7 linked regions of the Homo sapiens genome follow. The protein of the gene in region 1 purifies or fractionates together with the protein of each later gene. This does not show direct contact. Each region holds a gene or a part of one and is shown in the gene's direction. Other genes may lie near its edges.

Region 1 (3,500 bases):
TATAAGTTATTGTCACCTTTCTCTAGTATTTTTAAAATCTCTCCCTCTTAACTGCTCCTCGTCTCCTTGGCCCCATTCTGTTCTAGTCTGAAGTCAGAGTAATCTTTCTTATATCCAGATCTGATCATATTATTCTCTTCACTCCCCAGTTGGTTTTTTGATAAAATCCTCATTCTTTAACTACCAGAGATCTGAGTGATCCACGCCCTACCTACCTTGTTCATTTAGTCCAACAAATTTTTATTGAGTACCTTCTACATGCCATGCACTGATATACAACAGTGTATCAAAACCAAGTCTGTGCTCTCATAGAACATTCTTGTTAGATAACATAGACAGCAATCCTATATATATGTCAGATGGAGATGGGTGGAGAAAGATAAAGGAGGGGAGGTGAATGGTTTGTCAGCTTTATCTTTTACATTTATCCAGGAAAATTATATAAGATTGGAAACTACAGGACCTCAGAGGTAGTATGAAAATACTGGAAGGACTGGATTTGGAAAATGGGAGAAACAGCAGAATTAGGGCAGATTAAATGGGGGTTGTGAAGAAAATGGTCAGGCTTGGATTTCTGGCTTGGATAACTACGGAGATGGTGGTGCCACTGAGTGAGATGGTGAACAATAGAAGAGTAGCAGATTTGGGAGGAAAGGTGATTTCAAGCTTTAAACATGCTAATATGTGGTACCTATGGAGATTCAGGTAGAGATCCAGAAGTAGCTACCAGAGTATGAGTGTTGCTGATTCTTCTTATTGAGGAATAAAAAGATTTCTACAGTGAATTTGAAATGATAGTGGTTCTATTTTCTGAACTCTTGGCAGACCTAGTTACTTGAGCAAAGGTTTCTTTGAGCTGATAAAAGTCTCAGAATCCTTTATTTACCCTTCCTGGTAGCCTCTTCCAGATCATAGTTGACATTTAAGATTAAATCTATTTACCATCAACAGTTGAGAGAAATGATTGCTTTTAGAGAATAGTTCATTAGCCCCACAATTTATTATAACTACTGCCTAATTAAAGATTCAGATTTATAAGCCTGTTGAAAGGTTTTTGCAGTCTTAGAGATGGAAAATTCTTATCACTAGACAAGGTCTAGAAAAAGTCAATAACGAAGCAAAATATTAAATTTATATCATGGATTGAGCCCCCCAAAACTTACTCAGCCTTTTCAAATATGGGGTAAACAATGTAACTTTAAAGAGCTCTTAGGAGCTTAATGAAACGAGTGAGATAATTTAAAAAGTTTGATCTCCCATGGACATTGAAAAGCGTCCAAATCAAATTAATTTTTTAAATTATATGAGTTGTTATTAAAACCACATTTTTCTTATCTATTCACTGTACTGTCCTTCTTTGAGTATTTTCTGTTTTGGTTCTCTCATCTAGTTTTTTTTTTTTCTTTCATTTTATAGGTGGTGCTATTGATGGTGGTTTTTATAATTTAGATACAGCTAAAAGGTTTAATCACAAAGTTGAATTCCTGTATACACATGGGTACTGGTACTAATCAGCTGAAACTGCATTGTTGGTTCAAGTCACAGAGCATGTTGTGATTGCTGCTTTGGGGTATTGTTTTCCTCATGAGATTGTTTATTCTCGAGAACCAAAAGAAGTGAGCAGTCAGACTTGATGTTTCACAATTGAGATGGGGTAGCTTAGCACTACCACGTGTTTCACAGGCCAAAGAGGTAGAGCAGGCATTTCCACAATGTTAAATCTGTTTGTTAAGGGGAGAAGGGAACTAAGTATTTGCTTAGTTCCCTTACTACCTGCTGGATTCTGTGCTGTGTAAGTTACATTCATTAACTAATATGATTTTCACTTATATACTCATTTTCTTAATTATTACAGAAGTGGTGAAAATACAGCATCAGTTTTACAAAAAGATCACTATCTTGATTCATCTTGGAGAACAGAGAATGGCCTTATTGTAAGTATTTTATAAAAATATCAGGTGCATTAAGCTGTTATTTATTGCCTAGAGTGCTTCTTCTTTTTTTTTTTTTAAACTTAGTGCTAGTTCTCAACTATCACAGATATAATATTTTTCTTTTTTAGAAATTTAGAATTTTTTTTTACTTTAAAAATAGAAACCTCTTTCTTTTGACATTGAAAAATGGCCTGTTGAGAAACAGGTTTGGAGCCAGCTAGATTTAGGTACAGGTCTTTGCTCTACCACTTCTCAAATTTGTGAACTTCAGTTTCTTTACACCTAAAAAAGTGGTAGGTGGGCAAGGTGGCTCCTGCCTATAATCCCAGTGCTTTGAGAAGCCAAGGCAGGAGAATTCCTTGAGCCCAGGAGTTTGAGATTGCAGTGAGCTCTGATTGTGCCACTGCTCTCCAACCTGGGCAACAGAATGAGACCCGGTCTCAAAGAGAAAAAAAAAATGGGATTGTCACAGGGCTTATTTCTTCATGTAGTAGTTACTTTTTTTTTTTTTGAGATGCAGTCTCTTTGTCGCCAGGCTGAACTGCAGTTTCGTGATCTCGGCTCACTGCAACCTCTGCCTCCCACATTCAAGTGATTCTCCTGCCTCAGTCTCCCGAGTAGCTGGGACTACAGGCGTGTGCCACCCCGCCCAGCTAATTTTTGTATTTTTCATAGAGGCGGGGTTTCACCATGTTGGCCAAGCTGACCTTGATCTCTTGACCTCGTGATCCGCCCGCCTCAGCCTCCCAAAGTGGTGGGATTACAGGCGTGAGCCACCGCGCCCGGCCATGTAGTAGTTACTTATTGAGTACTTACTCGGTGCCAGTCAGTAGGTCAGGCTTGGAGAATACGACTACAATGAAGACAGACGTGTTCCTGCTCTCAAGAAGTTTATTTTCTAAGAGGGAGTTAAGTAATAAACAGGTAGACAAACTAATAATAGATTTTGAAGGAAATAAGCAAGATGCTGAATGAGAGTACCAGAGTGGGAAACCTAGTTTAGATTAAATTGTCAGTGAGGGAATCTCAGAGGAGGTGAGATTTAAGTTGAAAATGATGGGAAAAAGGGTAGATATGTGAACAGTTAAAATAAAATTATAGGCAGAAGGAACAGCAACTACAGAAGCTCTGGTTGAAGGCCAGTGTCTAGAATATGGTGGGAAAGGAAGGAGTGGCAGCATGTGGCAAGGTTGGAGAGGCAGGCTAGAGTTCTGTCATGCAGGACTTATGAGTCGGATTATGCTAAAGGGTTTACATTTTGTTTTAAAGGAACTGGGACATCATTGAAACATTTCATATAGATTTAATAGAGATTAGCAAATTTATTTTTATAAAATTAATTTTGGGTACTGTGGTAAAGATTGGAGGGAAGTAAGAGTGGAGTTAAAGGGACCAGTTAGGAAACATTCACGGTAATGGAAGCAAGATTTGATGATTGGGACTTGGCCTGAGGTAGTAGCAGAAGAGATAGAGTAGATAGATTTGAATTATATTTTGGAGGTAGAACTGGTTGATAGATTGGATATGGGCATCAAAGGAAAAGGAAAGAATCCACAATGATTCCTG
Region 2 (3,500 bases), on another chromosome or scaffold:
CCTTTTCTAAACTATTGTAGAATTTGAATAATACTCATTTTCAGAATTCTCTGCAACAGAACAACATCTCTTTAGACTGTAGTTTGTTAGGTTTTTGCTCTGAGGAGACAGAACAGTTGCTGCTTTACCATTTGTCTTTTACGTGCTTAAAATAAAATTATAAAGTCTTTCTTCAGCCTTCTTATACCCAGTTTCTTTAATCTTTCCTATGGTTCCTGTTTCTCTACTTTTTCCCTGTGGTTTCTTGTGAAAATATAAATCCTCCATGCTGCTTTGTTTAAATAGTACTATGTAAACTCTAAAGTGTTATGCAAATGATAAGTTATTTTATTATTACAAAGATGGTAGACCCTTGAACTGCACGTTTATGAAAGTAGTTCAGTGCTTGCTTTGTTGTTGTTTTGGTTTTTTTGATTCCCAAGTTCTGCCTTAGGATCTCCAATGCTTGCTTTTAATGGTTCTTGGACAATCGATGCTGTTACTGAAAAATTTGGAGTTCATATCTTTACACTCCATGGTCCATATCTCATCACTTTCCTAATTCTTATAACCATTTTATTTAAATTCAGTTCTGATGAACATACACCAGTGGAGGATGAAGAGCCAAAGAAAAGCACTACTTCAGCTTCTACTTCAGAAGGTATTTTTAAAAAAAGGGTATTTTTAAAATACAAGCTATTTTATTGAGAGATTTAAAAAAATCAGTTTGTAAATAGTTGAACATTAGACTTTGCTTTTACTCAAATTGCCCATCGTCTGTTTCTTTTGATGTTCAGAAATAGTTTTTTAGAATATAATTTTTTAATTTGTACTTTCTTAGAAGAAAAAAAGAAGAAGTCTAGCCGTTCAAAAGAAAGGTCCAAGAAAAGGAGAAAGAAAAAATCATCGAAAAGAAAACATAAGAAGTATTCTGAAGATAGCGACAGTGACTCTGATTCTGAAACAGACTCCAGTGGTAAGAACGCCAACAGCATTCTGCAAGCCTTGCTTCAAAACTAGTTTTACTTCTTAAAACTTATTTTAGAAGAAGGTTCCTGAAAACAATAATAATACTGAAGAGTTTTTGAACACTTGCTAACCTTGTGCCAGGTACCCCAATAAGTGCTTTATATTTATTATTGCCATTTAATCCATACAATAACTGTAGGGTACATCTTATAGATGAGGAAATGGAGACAGAGCAGGTTATAAGTACTATCCCTAAGGTCACACAGTTTGGATTCAAACCTAAGCAATCTGACTCCGGATTGGGATTGGTTGTGCAAAGTGTACAAGGCACATGGCACCAGACCAAGTCAGGGGGTTGGGCTGTACCAAAGTAAGCCTTACAGGGCTGCATCGGCCCAGTGGAAGGGCTCTTTTGTTTAATTCTCATGCCCAATGAGCACCTCTACAGTTTTCAAAAAGGTATGCCATAAAGTGCCTACTTCATGCTGGCTGCCTATTTGTGGAAGGCACCCTATCTGGGGTAGTGCATCACAAAGAGTCTCCTTTTTGTACTCTCTCCTGGCTGATGATTGACCAGAAGGTGCCTCCTCTGAGGTTAACACATTACACAAAGATTCACCTTCCTCTGATATCGCCGAAGTTTCCTGGCCCTCCCTGTCACTTCTCTTCCTCAGTGCTCGAAGACAGAACTTTCAAATATTTCTGTATGCAACACTTAAAAAGAGGCATTTTTATACTTAACTACAACACTATCTCATACAATAAAATTAGTAATAATACCCTATACACCAAATACCTACTTAAAATCCTTCAATAGCACTCCATAGCCTTCAGGGTAAAGTTCAGACCCTGACTCATTTCTCTCTAATCACATATACCCTGTTACACTCTCTTGCAACATCCTCTGTAATCTGAAAACTACTTTCTGTCTCCTCAGTATTCCATGTTCTTTCTCTTGTTACTTGGTAGAGAGGCCCTCTGCCTACAATGCCAGTCTCTCCCTCCATCCAGCTTGGTTTACTCATTGCACCAATGGGCATGCATTACTTTTGTAATCAAAGAACTACTTTAAGAGTCACCTTTCCTGATCAACCATTCCTCAGCCACCCTCCTCAAATCAGTCTGATTTTGAGACTCCTCTGTGTGTCCAGGTTCCCCAAGCTTCCCTCTATCATTCCAGATTGTATTGATCTCTTTACCTATCTGTCTCCTCCATTAGACTGAGCTCCAGGAAAGGATTCTCTCTCCCCTCTCCAACACACACATAGTTTTCTTTCCCTTTTTATCACAAAAATATTTAAATATTCAGAAAAGCGAAGAGAATAGTATAATTAATACCATATACTTAATCACCTAGATTTGGCAGTTGTTGGTATTTTTACATATTTGCTTCAAATATGGGTTTTTCACTGAGATAGTCAAAGTTAATTACAAATATCATCACACTTCCACCCTAAATATTTCTGTATGCATCCCGTAAAAAGAGGCATTTTCCTAATTAGCCACCACACTATCTCACACAATAAAATTAATAATAATACCCTATATCATCAAAACCTAGTGACTTTAATTTCTATGTTCATAGTACCTCCCTACAGTTCGTGACAAATAGCAATAAATGTTTCAATGAGGTAATTTCTTTGTAACAATAAATGGGACAGCAATAGGATAGTTACCTACTCAAAAGTACTACGGTTTTAGAGTTAAAAAATTTTTTTCTTAATTGTAATGTGCTTTAATTTGCAGATGAAGATAACAAAAGGAGAGCAAAGAAAGCCAAGAAAAAGGAAAAGAAGAAGAAACACAGATCGTCAGTTTTTTAAGTTTTATTATGGAAAATTTCTTTTCTTTTTTTTTTTTTTTTTTTTTTTTTGAGACAGAGTCTCACTCTGTCAGGCAACAGAGTGCAGTGGTTCGATGTCAGCTAACTACAACCTCCGCCTCCCAGGTTCAAGCGATTCTCATGTCCCAACCTCCCGAGTAGCTGGGATTATAGGCACCCACCACCATGCCTGGCTAATTTTTGTGTTTTTAGTAGAGATGGGGCTTCACCATGTTGGCCAGGCTGGTTTCGAACTCCTGACCTCAAGTGATCCTCCCACCTTGGCCTCCCAAAGTGCTGGGATTACAGGAGTGAGCCACTGCACCCGGCCAGAAAATTTCAAATGCATATAAAATTACATAAAATAGTATAATGATCCTTCCTGCACCTGTCATGCAGTCTAAATAATTATCAACTCATGGGCAGTATCTGCCATCCATCATTTATTTTGGACCCAATCTCAGATATCATTCCATCCATAAGCAATTCAGTACCTTTCTCTAAAAGATAGGCATTCTTTTTGTTTTGTTTTGTTTTTTTTGAGATGAAGTCTCGCTCTGTCGCCCAGGCTGGAGTGCAGTGGCGCGATCTCGGCTCACTGCAAGCTCCGCCTCCCGGGTTCACAAAGATAGGCATTCTTTAAAACAAAACAAAACAAAAAACTGGCCAGGCACAGTGGCACATATCTGTAATCTCAGCACTTTGGGAGGCCAGGCAGGAGGATCGCTTG
Region 3 (3,500 bases), on another chromosome or scaffold:
CCATTCTTTAACCTCTGCAGCTTTGGTCCACTTTTCATCGACCAGAGTTGGTCCGACCAGCCTTGGAAAACTCACTGAAGAAAGCTCAATTGGACTATGTTGACCTCTATCTTATTCATTCTCCAATGTCTCTAAAGGTATGCAGTTTGTATGAGCATAAAATTGCGCTTCTGCTGTCATTATAAACATTGTTTATCTGGATAGTTGAACAGAGCTTTTTATTAGGAGGATGTAGGGATTATCACACAGAAGAAGAACCGTAAGTGGAACACCTAATTTCCTTTCTTTCGAGTAAATTTTGAATCCTACTTCTCTAATGCACACCTACAAGAGAAGAGAGTACAGCAACCTCAAAGCCTCTTCCTCAAAAACTTGAAATTACAATAGTCTCTTTCAAGGCACTGTCTTAGTTGTGGCTTTTGAGTCCATCTCTTGGGATGTTCCCAGACACAGAGTTTCATGCAGTTGTGGTGCCCAATAAAACTGCTGCACATGTGATGCACAATGAGTTTCCACCATCTCTCCCCATTTCAAGCTGAAGCAGATTTGGTGGAAGCCACTATGCATGGTTCTTAAATTAGAAACCCTTAATGTGGACTTGCAAAGCTTTATTATTCTGCTGCCTCTTCTTTCACAATAGAGTTTGAAGCTGTATTTAGCCAGGAATTACTGTGTAGTGTATAACTTTTGATTTAAAGTTACAGAAAACTACTCAGGCTAGTTAATGCAAAAGAGTTTACTGAGTTATGTAAAATGGGAAGTCAAAGACATGGCTACATTTAAGGATATGAAATAGTCTACAAAAATGTATCATTTGTCTATTCTTATCTCTAAACTCCAACACTTTTTTTTATTATTGTTGACCCAAACTTTTTCATTGGTGGCGATTATGGCTTTGGAGCAGCTCAAGGCTCATGGTCATCACCATAAGACAACTCCTCTGGGTCTCCCAACTTCTGCTGACCCTATGTGATTCACAGTCCTGCCCAAAGACTATCAACTCTTCAGGTGGTCTGATAATCCTACCGTGTACAAGAGTACAATCCATTATTTTTGGATATCAAGGTATTTCCAAATCAAAGAGAGGTACTTCAATAGAGGAAATTATAAGGGCGGAATAAAGTGACATAAGTCAACTGTGAAACTTGATTAAGACCTAGAAAATGGTCCTTTTCCATGCATATAATATTTGTAAGAGATTAGAGGAAGCCTGTCTCCTGAATACATTCCTTATACCTTCATATGTAAAACACTTAGCACATATCACTTTCTGGAGCATTGTACCACCTGTCTCATGGAGGATTAGTGTCCTTAAAGGTACCTGGGGTTACAGCTATGAGTGGAGAAATTAATTTGTGACATCATTAAAATGACTGCTTCTATTTCAGCCAGGTGAGGAACTTTCACCAACAGATGAAAATGGAAAAGTAATATTTGACATAGTGGATCTCTGTACCACCTGGGAGGTGAGTGCTTGGCGGAGAGGACACAGAGAAGGATGACAAAAAGAGAAAATCTGTTTCCCAGGTTCAATAGGAAAGAATGGAATATGCACCATTAGATCTAGAAATTCAGAAACTTTACAAGAGTAGCTTTGGTGAGATGAAGGGAAAAACACAAAAGGAATGTTTAGAGAGTGGGGCACAAGACTTGGGGGCAAGGAGGACAGGAATCTCTTTCCTTGCTTGTGCATTAATCTATCCAGTTTCCTAAGGAAGAGATAGAAATTCTTACTCTTGCTGCCTCTATCTTCTTCCCCTATTTGCTGTTTGAATTTTTCTTTTTTTGACAATCACTGCTAGCTATTTTCATTGTCATACTTTGAAAGTTGTTGCTCTCACAGTTCTGTCTTGCATTTACCGTGATTTGCAGCCAACTGCACAAATAATTCCTCACAACCCCTTTCTCCACAGGCCATGGAGAAGTGTAAGGATGCAGGATTGGCCAAGTCCATTGGGGTGTCAAACTTCAACCGCAGGCAGCTGGAGATGATCCTCAACAAGCCAGGACTCAAGTACAAGCCTGTCTGCAACCAGGTGAGCTCCCTTGGCCTTCTCTCCTTTCGGTTCTTCATGCCCCCTCTTCCTGTCCTATTGCCAAATATCTGTTTGTTTTGTCCCAGTTATCTTTGTGAAGTAGAAGATTATCTAGAGAGCAAAGCTTCTGTCAAGAAAGGCGTGAAGATTTCTTGTTTGTACCCTGCTTGGAAAAGTATTAGGGAAAAATTGGAATGAGTTTAATGCTGAATCGTGTGTAATATTTAGGGGAGGTCCATTTGATCAGGGAGGCCTGGAATCATCAATTAGAACTCAAGGAAAGGTGGACTTACCTCTAAGCTATGAAAGATGACCAGAAAGTGCATGGGTGAAGGTGATTTGGAGGGAATGGTGTATAGATATGAAGCTAGGAAAAGATGAAATGAGCTGTACGTGAACAGAGAGTTAGAATAAGAGAAGAGAGGTGCTAGGGGTTTACATGGAATTTGGATGTCTGAATGCCTCTTCTTGATGTTTCAACAATTCTTGACCAGGGGCATAGATATACTAAAAATTAGCTGCAGACAATGAAAGTCATCCATGTCAGAAAGAGAAAAATTAGGCCGGGTGCAGTGGCTTACGCCTGTAATCCCAGCACTTTGGGAGGCAAAGGCAGGTGGATCACCTGAGGTTGGGAGTTTGAGACCAGCCTGACCAACATGGAGAAAGCCCATCTCTACTAAAAATACAAAAAATTAGCTGAGTTTGGTGGCACACGCCTGTAATCCCAGCTACTTGGGAGGCTGAGGCAGGAGAATCGCTTGAACCCAGGAGGCAGAGATTGCGGTGAGCCGAGGTCACGCCATTGCACTCCAGCCTGGGCAACAAGAGTGAAACTCCGTCTCAAAAAAAAAGAGAAAAATTACCTGTTTATGGAGGTAACTGTTCACAGTGGATGAAATCAACACTGAGGAACTTTAGCAGAACATAGACCTGACCTATCACTGCCCATGTCTTAGTCTGCTACTTCTCTTTGGGGTCTGTCATCCAATCAGTTGTTTAAACACATCTATTCTATGCATGGTTTTTTCATAGCTTAGGGATAAGTCCTTTTTTCCCCCTGAGTTATTGTTAATGATTCCAGGCCTCCTTGATCAAATTGACTTCCCCCAAATGTCACAAAAAAATTCAAAATTAAAGTCACTCTACCTTTTTGCTAATTTACACTTTTTTATTCTTTTATACAACTTAGAGCCAATGAGTAAAGATCTACCATTGAAATGTGAAGTGTATAAAATTTGTGAATTTGGCCTAATGATACAGTTCCATCATATCCAAATAGAAACATTAAGAAAATGCAGTTTTAATATTAGTCCTTCAATTTTTTATTATGATAATTTTCAAACTTTCAGAAAATTTGATAAAAATAATACACGATTCAACATAACCATTTATATTCAAAATTGTTAACACTTTGCCACATTGCCAAATATTTATGGCAAATGTTTATGTGGGTATATCTGC
Region 4 (3,500 bases), on another chromosome or scaffold:
GCTCCATTTTCTCCCCAGCAAAGTCTGATCTTTAGCATTGAAGGCTCTTTTAAGACACATCTATTATCAGAGAGGCCTATCATGTTCATGACCTGGGTGTCCAGGTACTCAGAAAGGAACAGGTCCCATGTATGGATGAGGTAGGATTTAATGGGGCAGCCTGAAAGCCCCTGGCCTACTGCCGTGCTTGACACCCGGTCCACAGGAAAGCCAGTTCTGTCCTTCAGCCTAGTACAGTCGTCAAATACCCCATCCCTGTTCCCTGGGAAGGCCCTTACAGATCAGCTCGCTGAAGTCCAAGAAGAATAAGATCAAATTCCCCCCAGACATTCTGGAACTTCCTCAACCAGCATCAACCCCTCTTCTAGTAATAGGTTTGTCTTGGCTGTTCTCCATACCTGCAGCTCAGCCTATCCACCCCCACCACTTTCCTAGCAAAGAAAATTCCTTCCTCACAAAACCTGCACCTCCACGTGGCATACCCTCTCTCTTCATTGTCTGTTCACATTCCACCTTCATGTTTAAGTTCCCGCTCCAGGGACTTCACCCCATGGATGACACCCGCTGTCTAGACTCCAAGGCACCTGCAGCCCCTCCAGCTACGACGATCCTGCTTCCATGTGTGTTCCTCCTGCCTCCCCAGGAAGGTTGATGCCTCCCACAAAGCCCATGTTCTGCTGACAACTTTCTTGTGCCCTCAGGTCTACAGCCAGAAGTGTAGGAGTATTTCAGAGGAATGGATGATACATTTGAGGGTATCCCTGCTCTGGCCAATTTCGCCTCTGGCCAACCCCACCAGGGTTGTGTGTTAGGGTAGCAGTCCTGATGAAGGAAGAATCTTCACTACTAGTCAAGATGGTTTCTAAACCCTATTGAGGTCAACAAAAGCAAAATGCTGCTGAGTGTGAGTTCTCTGTCCTTCCACACCCCGCCCCTGCCCTGTACACAGAGCCAAGCCCTGTCCTTGTCCTTGTTCTGATTCCTGGGCCTGGGCCTTGCAGATAAGGCCCCCTAGGTCATTGGGTTAGGGTATCAGTGCTGGAAGGTTGGTGCCACACACGATTCAGCTCCAGGGCAGATATGGCCCAGCCAGTAGGTGTAGGTCTGTGCTCATGCTGTTCCCTCTAATGAAAGACCTCACCTGACAGCCAGCTTCTGTTGAGACCTTGCCCATCTTGGAGCCCACCTCCTGTGAAGCCGCCCCAGACTTTCTCAGCTGTTACTAATTGCTATTTTCTCAGTGCTCACAAGCTCTAAGCTTCATCTCTGTGATTGTTGGGTAGCTCATTGTCTGTCTTCTCTCTAGCTGAGCAGCCCTATGACAACAGGAACCACGTCTGCCTGTTGTCCATAAGAGTTGATCAAGTTGATTAGATCTTAGGCTCCTGAAAAGTTTGATGAGTCACCAACAGAGGTGTTTTGTTTTGAGACAGGGTCTTCCTCTGTCACCCAGGTTGGAGTGCAGTAGCATGATCATGGCTTACTGCAGCCTTGAATTCTTGGGCTCAAGCGATCCTCCCACCACAGCCTCCTGAGTAGCTGGGACCACAGGTGTGCACCACTACACCCTGCTAATTTTTTTTTTCCTTTTTTTTTTTTTTTGAGACAGGGTTTCCCTATGTTGACCAAGCTGGTCACAAACTCCTAGACTCATGCGATCCCCCTGCCTTGGCCTCCCAAAGTGCTGGGGTTACAGACGTGAGCTACCCAGCCCAACAGAGGTCTTTTTATGGTCATTTCATGAACTGAGGTAGTTGGCCCTTCCAGCCATGGAGAACAAGACTCATCTAAGTCTCTCTAAAACAGAGAAGACATCTCTTCTAGAAAATGGGGAAACAAATGCCTGGTTTTAGGATTTGAGATAGAATACTATGCTCTAAGGCCTGTTTTCCCATCTGGCTCATAAAACAAACATCTCCCTACTTCCCCTTCAGAGTAGCAGAGAAAGAAATGGAAGGTAAGATACAACTGATGACCCAGAAAATCTACCTGCAGTACAGCTGGGGGTCAGGAATGGGACTTGTGTCATCCTAAATCCCAAATAGCTCAGGAAACAGCCATCTTGGATCTTGGGAGTAGAGAAAGATATACACAAGCTTAAAGTGCTACATAGAGCCTGAGAGAGTTTAACTTAACTAAAGACCTGGCATATGGTAGGACAACAACCACTGGTTCTAGAATGAATGAATGAGAAGCTTACTACAAAGAGTCTCCTCCCCACCCAATTTAAACCTGTGGTTACCCTGGCCTGGTCCCACCCACACTGGTCTAGCAGCTCCCAGGCTCCTGTCTTGGAACTGGCCTCGCTGGGATCCCAAGCCTCAGACCCAGGCCGTGCCCTGCAGGAGCACCCAGTGTGGAAGTGGGAGAGCAACAGGCAGAGGCTGGCCACTGGCCTCCCCTGGTCTGAGGCATCATGCAGTGCAGGTGCTTCCTGTATTTTGGAAGGAAGAACTGCAAACACCAGCAAAAAGTGGGTTTCCTTCTTCCCTTCTAGCCTAGACCTGCCTAGAAGGCAGGGAGATAGATCTTCTAGTCTCTGCTGTGCAGCCCAGCCCTAGTATCACTTTGCTCTTGGTTATAAGGAAAGGCTGCCTGTGGGCTCATAGCACTGAGAGCTTCCCAGATTGTAGACATTCCCTTGGCACTTAGAATTCTAGACTGGCAGGGACCCTCAAGGTTTCCCATCCACACTTCTATTTCATGGGTGGGAAACTGACATCCAGGCAGTAGATCAGGGATGCCTGACTCCACTCCCCTTATCTCATTCTGGCAATTCTAATTCTTTAGGCAGATCTCTCTGCCTCCAGGGCTTAACTCTGAGCTGAGAAAGCCTAAAACGGAGTTCTGTTTATTTCTGCGCCCCTCTCAAGTAGGTATTAAAAAAGATTGAAGACATGAAAGAAAGAATAACTGAATGTTACTGATGCCAGAAGCAACTCTCGCTGGGCGCAACTCTCGCTGGGCGCAACTCTCGCTGGGCCTCAGTTTCTCATGAGCAGAACTGCAGGGGGTAGGTGGTCCCAGTCTCTAGGGTCTCCACCAAGCTTCTTCTCAGTGCCCAGGAAGTGGTACAGTGTGCTCTCAATAGTCCTTCAGCTTATGACAGCCTCAGCTCATGGGACTTGATGACAGGGAAGAGCAAGCTGCATGCCATGAAGTCAGCCAGGTTTGCCTGTGGAGGCTGCTCCCATCTCCTTTCAGAACTGCCCCCTCCCCTATCAGGCCCCCACTTCTTCCCCAGGGCCTTGCTCTCAGCCAGCTGTCTGGGATGGCTTTCCTGTATAGCTTTGAGCTCCTTCAGCACAGGAGCCTGACATGGAGTAAGAAAAAAGAAAGAAAAATGAGTTAGAGGAGTCCAGAGGACCATGATACCATAGCCCACAGGTTTAAGTACCTTAAAGGCGGAATTAGTGATGCCCTGTCAGCCAGAGTCAGAGAGATCAAAGTTTGGTAGCCAAGCAGTAGGTAGGTGCTTTATGTCACCTGGCAACTCCAGG
Region 5 (3,500 bases), on another chromosome or scaffold:
TGTGGTGTTTGAGTTCTGACATGCTGGCATTTTGGTGGCTTTTTGGGCCTTTGTAGGGGAGAGGTGTAGGGGGCCTTGTGGAGGGAGAGTTCATTTTCCAGGAGCTTTGGTGGAGAGCAGGTGGGGAGGTGCTGCCCCAAACTGGAAGGAGCCATTGGCTTGGTTCCTGTTCTGGTGACCCAGGGCCCAGGTCCCCCACATTCAGGTGCGGCTACGGCCAAGGGGGTGCTGTGTGGATGAGCAGACCCAAGCTAGCCTGGAATCCCTAGAGCTGGCACATTCCTTTCAGGCTGCTCCCATTAGAAACAGAAGGAAAGAAAAGTCCAGACCCTAATCCCATAATTGGTAGGTTTTGTTTGTTTGTTTGTTTGTTTTTGAGAGGGAGTTTTGCTCTTGTTGCCCAGGCTGGAGTGCAATGGCACGATCTCTGCTCACTGCAACCTCCGCCTCCCGGGTTTGAGTGATTCTCCTGCCTCAGCCTCCTGAGTAGCTGGGATTACAGGCATGCGCCACCACGCCCAGCTACTTTTGTATTTTTTAGTAGAGACGGGGTTTCTCCATGTTGTTCAGGCTGGTCTTAAACTCCCAACCTCAAGTGATCCACCTGCCTTGGCCTCCCAAAATGGTGGGATTACAGGCATGAGCTGCTGCGCCCGGCCATAACTGGTAGTTTGTTTTTTTTTTTTGAGACGGAGTCTCGCTCTTTCGCCCAGGCAGGACTGCAGTGGCGCGATCTCGGCTCACTGCAAGCTCCGCCTCCCGGGTTCACGCCACTCTCCTGCCTCAGCCTCCGGAGTAGCTGGGACTACAGGCGCCCGCCACCGCGCCCGGCTAATTTTTTGTATTTTTAGTAGAGGCGGGATTTCACTGTGTTAACCAGGATGGTCTTGATCTCCTGACCTCGTGATATGCCTGCCTCGGCCTCCCAAAGTGCTGGGATTACAGGTGTGAGCCACCGTGCCCGGCCATAACTGGTAGTTTTAAGCCACCTGACTCAGATCTCCCTCACAGCCAGAGCAGAGAGCTGGGAAAGCCCAGCAGCTGCTTGCTTTGCTGCCTCCACCCCTGCCCCAGGCTATATAGGCTGGCCCCAGCGCCCTGTGCACTCTGAAGTGGCAGAAGGTCCTCTGGGCACCACCCTCTGCCAACGGGGCTCCCTTGCCTTGCCTCTCAGGCCTTATTGTTCAGCCAGAAATTCTCCTGGACTGGCTGAGTGAGTCCTTCGAGAAGGGGGACAGATGGAAGGTGCAGAGGGAAGGGCTATCAGATGGCTCTGGAAGCAGGAAGCAGGTATCAGGTGGTCTCCAGGGCCACGCCCACTCCACGCCAAAGTGCTCTCGCCCAGCTGAGGCCAGGCCCCTCCAACCCACCCAGCCTGACAGGAGCAGATGGAGCTCATCAGAAACCTGATTGTGTGACTGGTGACCGCGGTGGCTCACACCTGTAATCCCAGCACTTTGGGAGGCTGAGGCGGGCGGATCACTTGAGACCAGGAGTTCGAGACCAGACTGGCCAACATGGTAAAACCCTGTCCCTACTAAAAATACAAAAAATAGCCGAGCGCGGTGGCATGCGCCTGTAATCCCAGCTACTCAGGAGGCTAAGGCAGGAGAATCACTTGAACCCAGGAGGCAGAAGTTGCAGTGAGCCAGGATCATACCACTGAACTCCAGCCTGGGTGACAGAGTGAGACTCTGTCTCCAAAAAAAAAAGAAAAGAAAAGAATAAAAAAACCTGATTGCGATAAATAGTCATCTTTGTAGTGTTAGCAAAAGTGTGGCCACACATCCACCATTTTCCCGTAGTACTGGGCACTGGGCACTTGGTGTGCAAGGAACAAATTGAACCAGTGTCTGAGCCTCAAGGTGCTCATGTTCCTGGGGGAGGAATCCCGACAGATGTGTAACTATGACAGACAGGTCGCGCCAAAGCAGCGAATGGCAGGCCGAGGGCCGCCGTGTGGATGGAGTGAAAAGTGGGAACACAGTGACTCTGAGCCTTGCAAAACCGAGAGCTGTACTTTTTCTTTTTTTTAAATTAATTTATAAAATTTTTTTTCTGTAGAGATGAGGTCTCGCTCTGTTGTCCAGGCTGGTCTCAGACTCCTGGTATCAAGCCATCTTCCTGCCTCGGCCTCCCGAAGTGCTGGGATTACAGGTGTGAGCCACCACGCCTGTCCTTTCTTTCTTTCTTTCTTTCTTTTTTTTTGAGACGGAGTCTCGCTCTTGTCGCTCAGGCTGGAGTGCAATGGCGCGATCCTGGCTCACTGCAACCTCTGCCTCCCGGGTTCAAGCGATTCTCCTGCCTCAGCCTCCACTGAGTAGCTGGGATTACAGGCATCCACCACCACACCCAGCTAATTTTTGTACTTTATTAGTAGAGACAGGGGTTTCACCATGTTGGCCAGGCTGGTCTCAAACTCCTGACCTCAGGTGATCCACCCACCTCGGCCTCCCAAAGAGCTGGGATTACAGGCGCCTGGCCCTCTTTATTTTATTTTTTAAGCCTAATTCTTGATAACCTCTTAAGTCGAAATAACCAGAATTTTTTTTTTTGGTCCCCTCAGCGTGGGCACAGAAGAAAATGCTTTTTTGTGGTTGTTGTTACCCAAAGTATTGGCCTATTTATTCACCAGCCAGCAATAGAGACATTTTATTAAGTGCTAATCATTTGATTATGCTCCATTTTCAGCTAGAAAGTATTGTGGAAAGGTCCTTCTCCAGCCATTAGAGGAAAAAGGCGAACTCCTGGGTGCCTACTATGTGCTAATTAATGTCTGTCTCTTTTCTTCTCTGCCAAGGCCTGGGGAAGGGCTTTTCATAACTCCCTGGCAGCTGAAAGAAGAGCGTCATTAAGCAGCACCTAATAGCAAGATGATTTCCGTTCTTAGCTGCTGAGTGGTAGGCTGCATGATGAGAGTGGAGAGTGGGCTTGGCGGGCTTCTTTGTCAGTGGGTTGATGAGGAGACGGCCTCATGCTGACTTTTCTTGCTCTCCCCCAGAGTGTGACAAGTTTAACCAATGTGGGACATGCAATGAATTCAAAGAGTGCCACGCCATCCGGAACTACACCCTCTGGAGGGTGGGAGACTACGGCTCCCTCTCTGGGAGGGAGAAGATGATGGCAGAAATCTATGCAAATGGTCCCATCAGGTGAGGAGAGGTCCCGCGGGCAAAGAGAGGTTTGCGGGTGAGGAAAGGTCCCGCGGGTGAGGAAAGGTCCCGCGGGTGAGGAGAGATCCGCGGTGACAGCGCCAGTGTGGGCTCATGTCGGTGCTCATGTAGGCATCTCCGTCCTTCGCCACTTTCCTTCTGGCCGGTTGTACTCAGTAGGCTCGAGACAGCCACATCATTTCCCCTCTAAGAACTTCAGTTTTCTCAGAGTTAACACTCAGCTGATAGCAAGTCTGCCCCTATGGATGGTTGTGCGGAATGCGGATGAGACGCTCCAAGCTGTACCGAGGGGGCAGTTTCAGCAGGGAAGACACTATGTGAATAACA
Region 6 (3,500 bases), on another chromosome or scaffold:
TTTCCCTCCTCCTCACTTGTGATAACCCTGTGATGCATAGGTACATTTCAGCAGCCTCAGGACTGAGACTCTGGAAAGCCCTGCATTCGTGATGTGACATTGAAGTGTGCCCCATGTGTGTGCACTTGAGGCATTTGCTCAGCCCTCTGGAGCTGGTCGTCTTCTGGCCAGGGTGCTGTTCCATGTTTGTGGCTGAGTGACCATTGCGTATTCTTCATGCCTTTGAACTTTTTCAGGGAGCGCATGGAGCTTTTGGAAGAAGCCAAGAAGATGGAGATGGCCAAGTTTCGCTACATCCTGCCTGTGTATGGCATCTGCCGCGAACCTGTCGGCCTGGTCATGGAGTACATGGAGACGGGCTCCCTGGAAAAGCTGCTGGCTTCGGAGCCATTGCCATGGGATCTCCGGTTCCGAATCATCCACGAGACGGCGGTGGGCATGAACTTCCTGCACTGCATGGCCCCGCCACTCCTGCACCTGGACCTCAAGCCCGCGAACATCCTGCTGGATGCCCACTACCACGTCAAGGTGGGGGGCCGCACGGTGCCCGAGAGAGCTGGGCAGGGAGGGCCTGTGTCTTGGGGAGCAGGGTATCAAGGGGTCAAGCCCTGAGGTCAGGACAAGGGCAGAAGAGGAGGTGGTTCTTCTTGGAGGAAAGAGCTTGAAACCGAGGCCTTTTGCAGCATGAGGACTCCAGGAGCCTAAGCTTGTCCTGGTTGGTATGAAAACCACACGCCATGTAGCTGGAGGGTAGCTTGGTGAACATGGGGGCTGTTCCCCCAAATCTTGGCATATGACTCATTCCGGAAAAAGATTACGGGTTTGTGGGTTTTGGTCTTATGAAATCAGGTTAGAATTCAGCCCGTGGGCCAGGTGTGTCCTTGCGAGACCTTAGGCTCTGCAACAAAGGGACGCATTTCCCTCAGTGTTTTCAGGAGCTCGGGGTGGTGGGAATGTGGGGGTCCTCTGCAGTGGGGTCCTCAAAGTGCTGTGGAAAGAGGCTTGTGAGGAGGGGCTCGTTGCCTCTGTCTGCCCCTGCGTAGAGTGCGGAGTGGCAGCGTGTTGCGTTAGTGCAACGCCTGGGAGATGGAGCTTGCTTTTGCTTCGCTGATAGGTTTTTGAAACACAGAAAAGTAAGAGAGATAATGTAACTGAAAACCAGTGTTGCCTCTGGGCCTTGGCAGGTGTTAGCATCATCACCTTTGCATCAGGGCTGTATTTCCTTGTATCTCCTTTGATGGCCTTCGTGGCTAGGGTTGTACTGTCGTTGACATGTGGTGGTTACACCTGGCGCGTTGTAGTTTTTCCCCACGTGGTGATGTTCACATGCTCTTGGGAGGCCCAGGGTGATAGGCTGGTCCACATGACACTGGTGTCTGCCCTGGGAGTGAGAAGGAGCCGAGAGCCATGGTCCGGATCCATGTAGTTCATGCAGGGGACAAGCAGAGGAGTCCCCTGCCTGGCTTGGCTGTGCTACTGTTCCTGGTGGCACAGCACTTCCAGGCCTCTCTGATGGCCTGACCATTAATTAGGAGAGACCTGAATTCAGGGCCCGGCCCTGCCCCTGAGCTCTTGGGTGGGACGGGAGCGGTGGCTCGTATGGCATGCGCACGGCCGCTCCCTGTGCCCAGACTCTGCGGACGAGTGCATCTCGCGTGCCTTGCTCAGCCAGGGCGGTGGTGAGGAGGTCAATTTTTCACTTCGGGCAGTAATTATAAGTTGTCTCTTAGGTAGGTGTTGCGCAGTAATAAGATTTCAGCTAGAAGATGAAGCACCGTCCTGCGAAGTGAAGTAGGAAATTGAGATAATGGAGACAAAAATCAAATGACTTGGCTTGAACGGGCTCTCTGGTGGTTTCCCGCATCTGCTTATGTTCTGGGACCCCTGGGATTCCCGTTTCCTGTGATGGGCAGGGCTGGGCCTCACATGCGGACCCCCCATTCCCGCCAACATTTACGGGCTTGTTTCTAGGTAGCACAGGCTCTGGGGCCCTAATGACTAGTAAGCTCTGCCGTCCAACGTGCACTGAATACCGGAAAGGACATGCTAGAGGCTTCACCTGCGGGAGCTGCCCTCATCCTCAGAGCAGAGGTGCAGAGTGGACGGTGGCCTCTGGTTCTCGCTGAGTCTCTGCTTAGAGTGAGTAAATTAGCAGCCAGGATCGTCCAGCTGTAAGTCACGGAGCAGAGACCTTGATTTCCACCTGGCCTGCCACTGTGCTTGACATGAAAGAAACCAAATGACCACTGCACGTAGCAGTCACTTGGGGGCAGGGTGTGTGGCCCGCAGGCTGGGCCTAGAGGCGGCCCTGTGGGAGGGGGTGGGAGTGCTCCTGGGGCTGGGCCTTCACACAGGGTGGGGCTTTTCTGCCCTCAGGAGTCGGGGCAGGCAGCAGCAGAGCCTTTAGGTGAAGGAAACAGCCCAAGAGACGCAGAGAGCTCTGGGCCTTCCTGCAGGGGCAGCAGGCAGCAGGGCTTCCCTGTCTTTCAGGACAGCTGCAGGGGGCGGATGCTGCCTGGAACTGCTTTCTCAGGGAGGCTGCTGTCGAAGGCACGCTGGGTGCTGGCCAGGAAGTGACAGGACATCTCTGTGTGGTGCCCCTGGGACATCTTAGGGCCCTGTGTACCCTGACAGGCCGCAGGAAAGATTGCTTTTGTGTGGCGTCCTTCTTAATCAGGCATGTTAGTCACCATCAAGAAGCCCAAAAACAAACCGAAAAATACCTTTACGTGACATACTTATTTTTTCTGTGAAATAGCTACTGGTGTGCGTAGAGTGCAGCAGGGAGTGTGTGTCGGGGTTCTGAGAGTCAGCGCCTTTGTTCCTGAAGACGAAGTGTGGAAGCTTTGCATGGACTGACCACTGGGCTTCTGGGCAGTCCTCAGTAGACAGTTATTCAATGCAGGAAAACTGTAATCCAGAATCCTGCAATTAGATCCTAAGTTGCCATTCCAGTGCTGCCATTCGCCTCTGAGATGGGCTCCCTCAGTGCTCAGGGCTCGATTCAAACTGGAAATATCACAGCAACTGTCTACTTCATGAAGCAGTTAAATGTAAATAGTATACAAAGTAATAGTATCAAATTAATGCTTGATATTATTCAACATTACATATACTAAATACCAATATTAAGATACTAGTTGGAATCAATTTCAACTTAAAAATGAAATAACTTGGTTTAAAATCTCAGGCTGCATTTATATGTCCAGTTAGCCCAAAACAGACGCTTTTCAAAGGGTCACACGCGGGTCACGTTCTGCTGTGTCTTTCTTTTAGAGGCAGCAAAACCCCGGCAGGCTGCTTTCTTAGTCTTGACAGCTGGACCTTGAAGTTGAAGGGCCATGTGCTTGGGGGCAGCTGTGAGCCCTCAGCTCTTGGAGATGCAGAGTCGGGTGCTGATGAGAGTGTTTGTAACTCTTGAAGCATTTGCTGGTCAGAGTGGATGCCACAGTAGCTCGCTGTTGAGGACACGGGGTGAGGGGCAGCTTGGGTGGGAAGAT
Region 7 (3,500 bases), on another chromosome or scaffold:
TTGCAATGAGCGGAGATCGCGCCACTGCACTCCAGCCTGGGCGACAGAGCGAGACTCCTTCTCAAAAACAAACAAATAAATAAATAAATAAAGATATATTTGTGTGGGCCAGGCGCGGTGGCTCACAGTTGTAATCCCAGCACTTTGGGAGGCCGAGGTGGCCCCGTCTCTACTAAAAATACAAAATTAGCCAGGTGTGGTGGCGCATGCCTGTAATCCCAGCTACTCGGGAAACTGAGGTGGGAGAATCGATTGAACCTGGAAGGTGGAGGTTGCGGTGAGCCAAGATCATCCTGTCGCACTCCAGCCTGGGCAACAAGAGCGAAACTCCATCTCAAAAAGAAAAAAAAAGATATATTTGTGTGACTTACAGGTACAGGTAAAGTTGCTTCTGGTTTTCTGGTTGTTGCATGGTATTTCCTATGCAGCCACAGCTCTTTATTTTCTTACTTAAGTGCCTCCAACTTCCCATAACACAAATTAAGGCATGATGAACATCCTCTCTGTGCTGAACATCCTGTGTATGTCACTTTAGAAGCCTGTGTGACGGTTTCTTTAGTCTTTATACCTAGGGGTGGGATTTCTGGGTCATAGGACAGTAATTTATATTTATTTTCACTAAGTATTCTCTTTCTCTGGCTTTTGTTACATATTACCTGTTTGTCCTCCAGAAAACTTGCACCAATTTACATTCCTACCAATAGGGTAGGAGAGTGCACACTGGGTGGATTCTAACTCCAAATCTAACACCTCTTCTTTTCTTTGTTTCTAGCAGCCATGGCAATGACAGGCTCAACACCTTGCTCATCCATGAGTAACCACACAAAGGAAAGGGTGACAATGACCAAAGTGACACTGGAGAATTTTTATAGCAACCTTATCGCTCAACATGAAGAACGAGAAATGAGGTAAAGAATTTTGTTTGAAAAAATTGTGTCATGGTTGTGGCATTCCTTTCTCGTATTGTAAAACACTTATAATGCTGAAAGGAGACAAGAATAGTAGCAGCCTTATTATAGACTATCATAATGGAATGACAGTGAAAGGGCTTTTCAAAGTCCCTGCCATTAACCCACTTATGCCTACAAGTCAATAACACAAACTTCTATTGAAATCCAAGAAAAAAAATGATACTTGGGAGGTTGAGTTGGGAGGATTGCTTTAGCCCAGGAATTTGAGGCCAGCCTGAGCAACACTGAGACTCTGTATCTTAAAAAAAAAAAAAAAAAAAAAATTAGGCCCAATCCAAGGAGTTGATTGTTAAGGCAGAGTGGTATAATGGAATAGCAGCCCTTTTGGAGTCAGACTTGGGTTTAGAGTCCTGCCAGTTTCATTGAATAGCTGTATGAAGCTCTAATAAGTTCCTTAGTCTTTCTGTGAATTGGTTCCCTCATCAGGAAAATGGGGATAATACTACTTGCCTTGCAGGATTGTGTTGGGGATTAGATATAACATATGTGAGTATGTACCATAGTGTTTCACACATAGTAGTCACTTAGTTAATGGTGGTAGTATCAGCTATTGTTATTACTGATCTGGTGTATACTGTCCACTTAGTAACTCATAATTTATTTATTGGTTTTTTTTTTTTTTTGAGATCGAATCTCACTCTGTTGCCCAGGCTGGAGTGCAATGGCATGATCTCAGCTCACTGCAGCCTCTGCCTCCTGGGTTCAAGCGGTTCTCGTGCCTCAGCCTCCTCAGTAGCTGGGACTACAGGTGTGAGCCACCACGCCTGGCTAATTTTTGTATTTTTAGCAGAGACGGGGTTTCACCATGTTGGCCAGGCTGGTCTTGAACTCCTGACCTCAGGCATTCCACCTGCCTCGGCCTCCCATAGTGCTGGGATTACAGGCATGAGCCACTGCTTGGCTGTAACTCATAATTAAAAAAAAATTTTTCCCAATATTTTACTATGAAAGTATTCAGAAGTACAGAAAACTTGTAATAAACAGTGAATATATACATATATATCATCTAGAGTCTATAATGGTTATTTATTATATTTGTTTAACTGCATATCCATCTATCCATTCTTGTATCTGTCATTAATCCATCTTAATTTCCTTTTTTTTTTTTTTTTTTTTTGAGACAGAGTCTTGTTCTGTCACCCAGGCTGGAGTGTAGTGGCGTGGTCTTGGCTCACTGCATCATCTGCCTCCTGGGTTCAAGTGATTCTCCTGCCTCAGCCTCCCGAGTAGCTGGGATTACAGGCATGCGCCACCACGCCCAGCTAATTTTTGTATTTTTAGTAGAGACAGGGTTTCACTGTGTTGGCCAGGATGGTCTTGATCTCTTGACCTCTTGGCCTCCCAAAGTGCTGGGGTTATAGGCGTGAGCCACTGTGCCCGGCCAATCCATCTTAATTTTTTGCCTCACTTCAAGGTATGTTGTAGACATCAGTATACTTCTGAATATTTCTGCTTATATAACATTAACTAGAATTCAGTATTTATACTTTTTGGGGAAGGGTGTAAAATTTATATACAATGGAATGCACAAGTTCAAGGGTACCATTTTATGAGTTTTGACAATTGCATACACTTGTATAACTTAAACCTTTATCAAAACAGAACATTACGTCTCCCAGAAAAAGTTTTCATGCCTCTTGGTTCTTCAACCTTAGACAAAGACAACCACTGTTGTGATTTTTTTTTTTTCTTTTTTTCTTTTTTTGAGACGGAGTCTCACTCTGTTGCCCAGGCTGGAGTGCAGTGGCGTGATCTCGGCTCACTGTAAGCTCCGCCTCCCAGGTTCACGCCATTCTCCCACCTTAGCCTCCCGAGTAGCTGGGACTACAGGCGCTTGCCACCAAGCCCGGCTAATTTTGTTTTTGTATTTTTAGTAGAGACGGGGTTTCACTGTATTAGCCAGGATGGTCTCAGTCTCCTGACCTCGTGATCCACCTGCCACAGCCTCTTGAAGTGCTGGGATTACAGGCGTGAGCCACCGTGCCTGGTTGTGATTTTGTTTCTATCATAGTTTTGCCTATTTCATACAAGTGGAACACATAAATGGAAACATGTAGTATGTACTCATTTGAGCAAGGCATCTTTCATTTAGCATATTTTTTTTTTTGTCGAGACGGGGTGTTGTTTTGTTGCCCAGGCTGGTGTGCAGTGGCACTATCATAGCTTACTGCATCCTTGACCTCCCAGGCTCAAGCGATCCTCCTGCCTCAGCCTCCCAAGTAGCTGGGACTACAGGTGCATGCCACCATGCTTGGCTAATTTTTAAAATTTTCTGTAGAGACAGGGTCTCACTTTGTTGTCCAGGCTGGTCTCGAACTCCGGGGTTCAAGTGATCCTCCCACCTTAGCCTCCCAAAGTGCTAGGATTACAGGTGTGAGCCACCACACCTGGCCAGCATATTTTTGAGGTTCCTCTGTGTTGCTATATGCATCAATAATTTGTTCCTTTTTATTGTTGGTACTATTCTGTCTTCTGACTATATCTTTGTTTGTCCATTCTCCTATTGATAAACACCTGGGTTCTTTTCAG

What was found.
Region 2: the proteins of MYSM1 (region 1) and NKAP purify together in Homo sapiens (affinity purification with mass spectrometry, with the first as the bait; one large-scale study listed by BioGRID). This does not show direct contact.
Region 3: the proteins of MYSM1 (region 1) and AKR1C3 purify together in Homo sapiens (affinity purification with mass spectrometry, with the first as the bait; one large-scale study listed by BioGRID). This does not show direct contact.
Region 4: the proteins of MYSM1 (region 1) and C2CD3 purify together in Homo sapiens (affinity purification with mass spectrometry, with the first as the bait; one large-scale study listed by BioGRID). This does not show direct contact.
Region 5: the proteins of MYSM1 (region 1) and CTSZ purify together in Homo sapiens (affinity purification with mass spectrometry, with the first as the bait; one large-scale study listed by BioGRID). This does not show direct contact.
Region 6: the proteins of MYSM1 (region 1) and RIPK4 purify together in Homo sapiens (affinity purification with mass spectrometry, with the first as the bait; one large-scale study listed by BioGRID). This does not show direct contact.
Region 7: the proteins of MYSM1 (region 1) and STK38 purify together in Homo sapiens (affinity purification with mass spectrometry, with the first as the bait; one study listed by BioGRID). This does not show direct contact.

The regions. Positions count from the first base shown.
Region 1 is NC_000001.11:58,693,563-58,697,062, reverse strand, and holds part of MYSM1 (deubiquitinase MYSM1), read left to right. Parts: intron 1-1,855; coding exon 1,856-1,934; intron 1,935-3,500. UniProt on the Homo sapiens protein: Metalloprotease with deubiquitinase activity that plays important regulator roles in hematopoietic stem cell function, blood cell production and immune response.
Region 2 is NC_000023.11:119,933,752-119,937,251, reverse strand, and holds part of NKAP (NF-kappa-B-activating protein), read left to right. Parts: intron 1-569; coding exon 570-640; intron 641-820; coding exon 821-955; intron 956-2,694; coding exon 2,695-2,758; intron 2,759-3,500. UniProt on the Homo sapiens protein: Acts as a transcriptional repressor. Plays a role as a transcriptional corepressor of the Notch-mediated signaling required for T-cell development. Also involved in the TNF and IL-1 induced NF-kappa-B activation.
Region 3 is NC_000010.11:5,097,414-5,100,913, forward strand, and holds part of AKR1C3 (aldo-keto reductase family 1 member C3), read left to right. Parts: intron 1-20; coding exon 21-137; coding exon of another isoform or gene 138-185; exon of another isoform or gene 186-763; intron 764-1,388; coding exon 1,389-1,466; intron 1,467-1,913; coding exon 1,914-2,036; intron 2,037-3,500. UniProt on the Homo sapiens protein: Cytosolic aldo-keto reductase that catalyzes the NADH and NADPH-dependent reduction of ketosteroids to hydroxysteroids.
Region 4 is NC_000011.10:74,014,003-74,017,502, reverse strand, and holds part of C2CD3 (C2 domain-containing protein 3), read left to right. Parts: intron 1-3,500. UniProt on the Homo sapiens protein: Component of the centrioles that acts as a positive regulator of centriole elongation.
Region 5 is NC_000020.11:58,997,255-59,000,754, reverse strand, and holds part of CTSZ (cathepsin Z preproprotein), read left to right. Parts: intron 1-3,001; coding exon 3,002-3,152; intron 3,153-3,500. UniProt on the Homo sapiens protein: Exhibits carboxy-monopeptidase as well as carboxy-dipeptidase activity. Capable of producing kinin potentiating peptides.
Region 6 is NC_000021.9:41,753,553-41,757,052, reverse strand, and holds part of RIPK4 (receptor-interacting serine/threonine-protein kinase 4), read left to right. Parts: intron 1-236; coding exon 237-528; intron 529-3,500.
Region 7 is NC_000006.12:36,537,480-36,540,979, reverse strand, and holds part of STK38 (serine/threonine-protein kinase 38), read left to right. Parts: intron 1-190; exon of another isoform or gene 191-379; intron 380-772; 5' UTR 773-777; coding exon 778-908; intron 909-3,500. UniProt on the Homo sapiens protein: Serine/threonine-protein kinase that acts as a negative regulator of MAP3K1/2 signaling. Converts MAP3K2 from its phosphorylated form to its non-phosphorylated form and inhibits autophosphorylation of MAP3K2.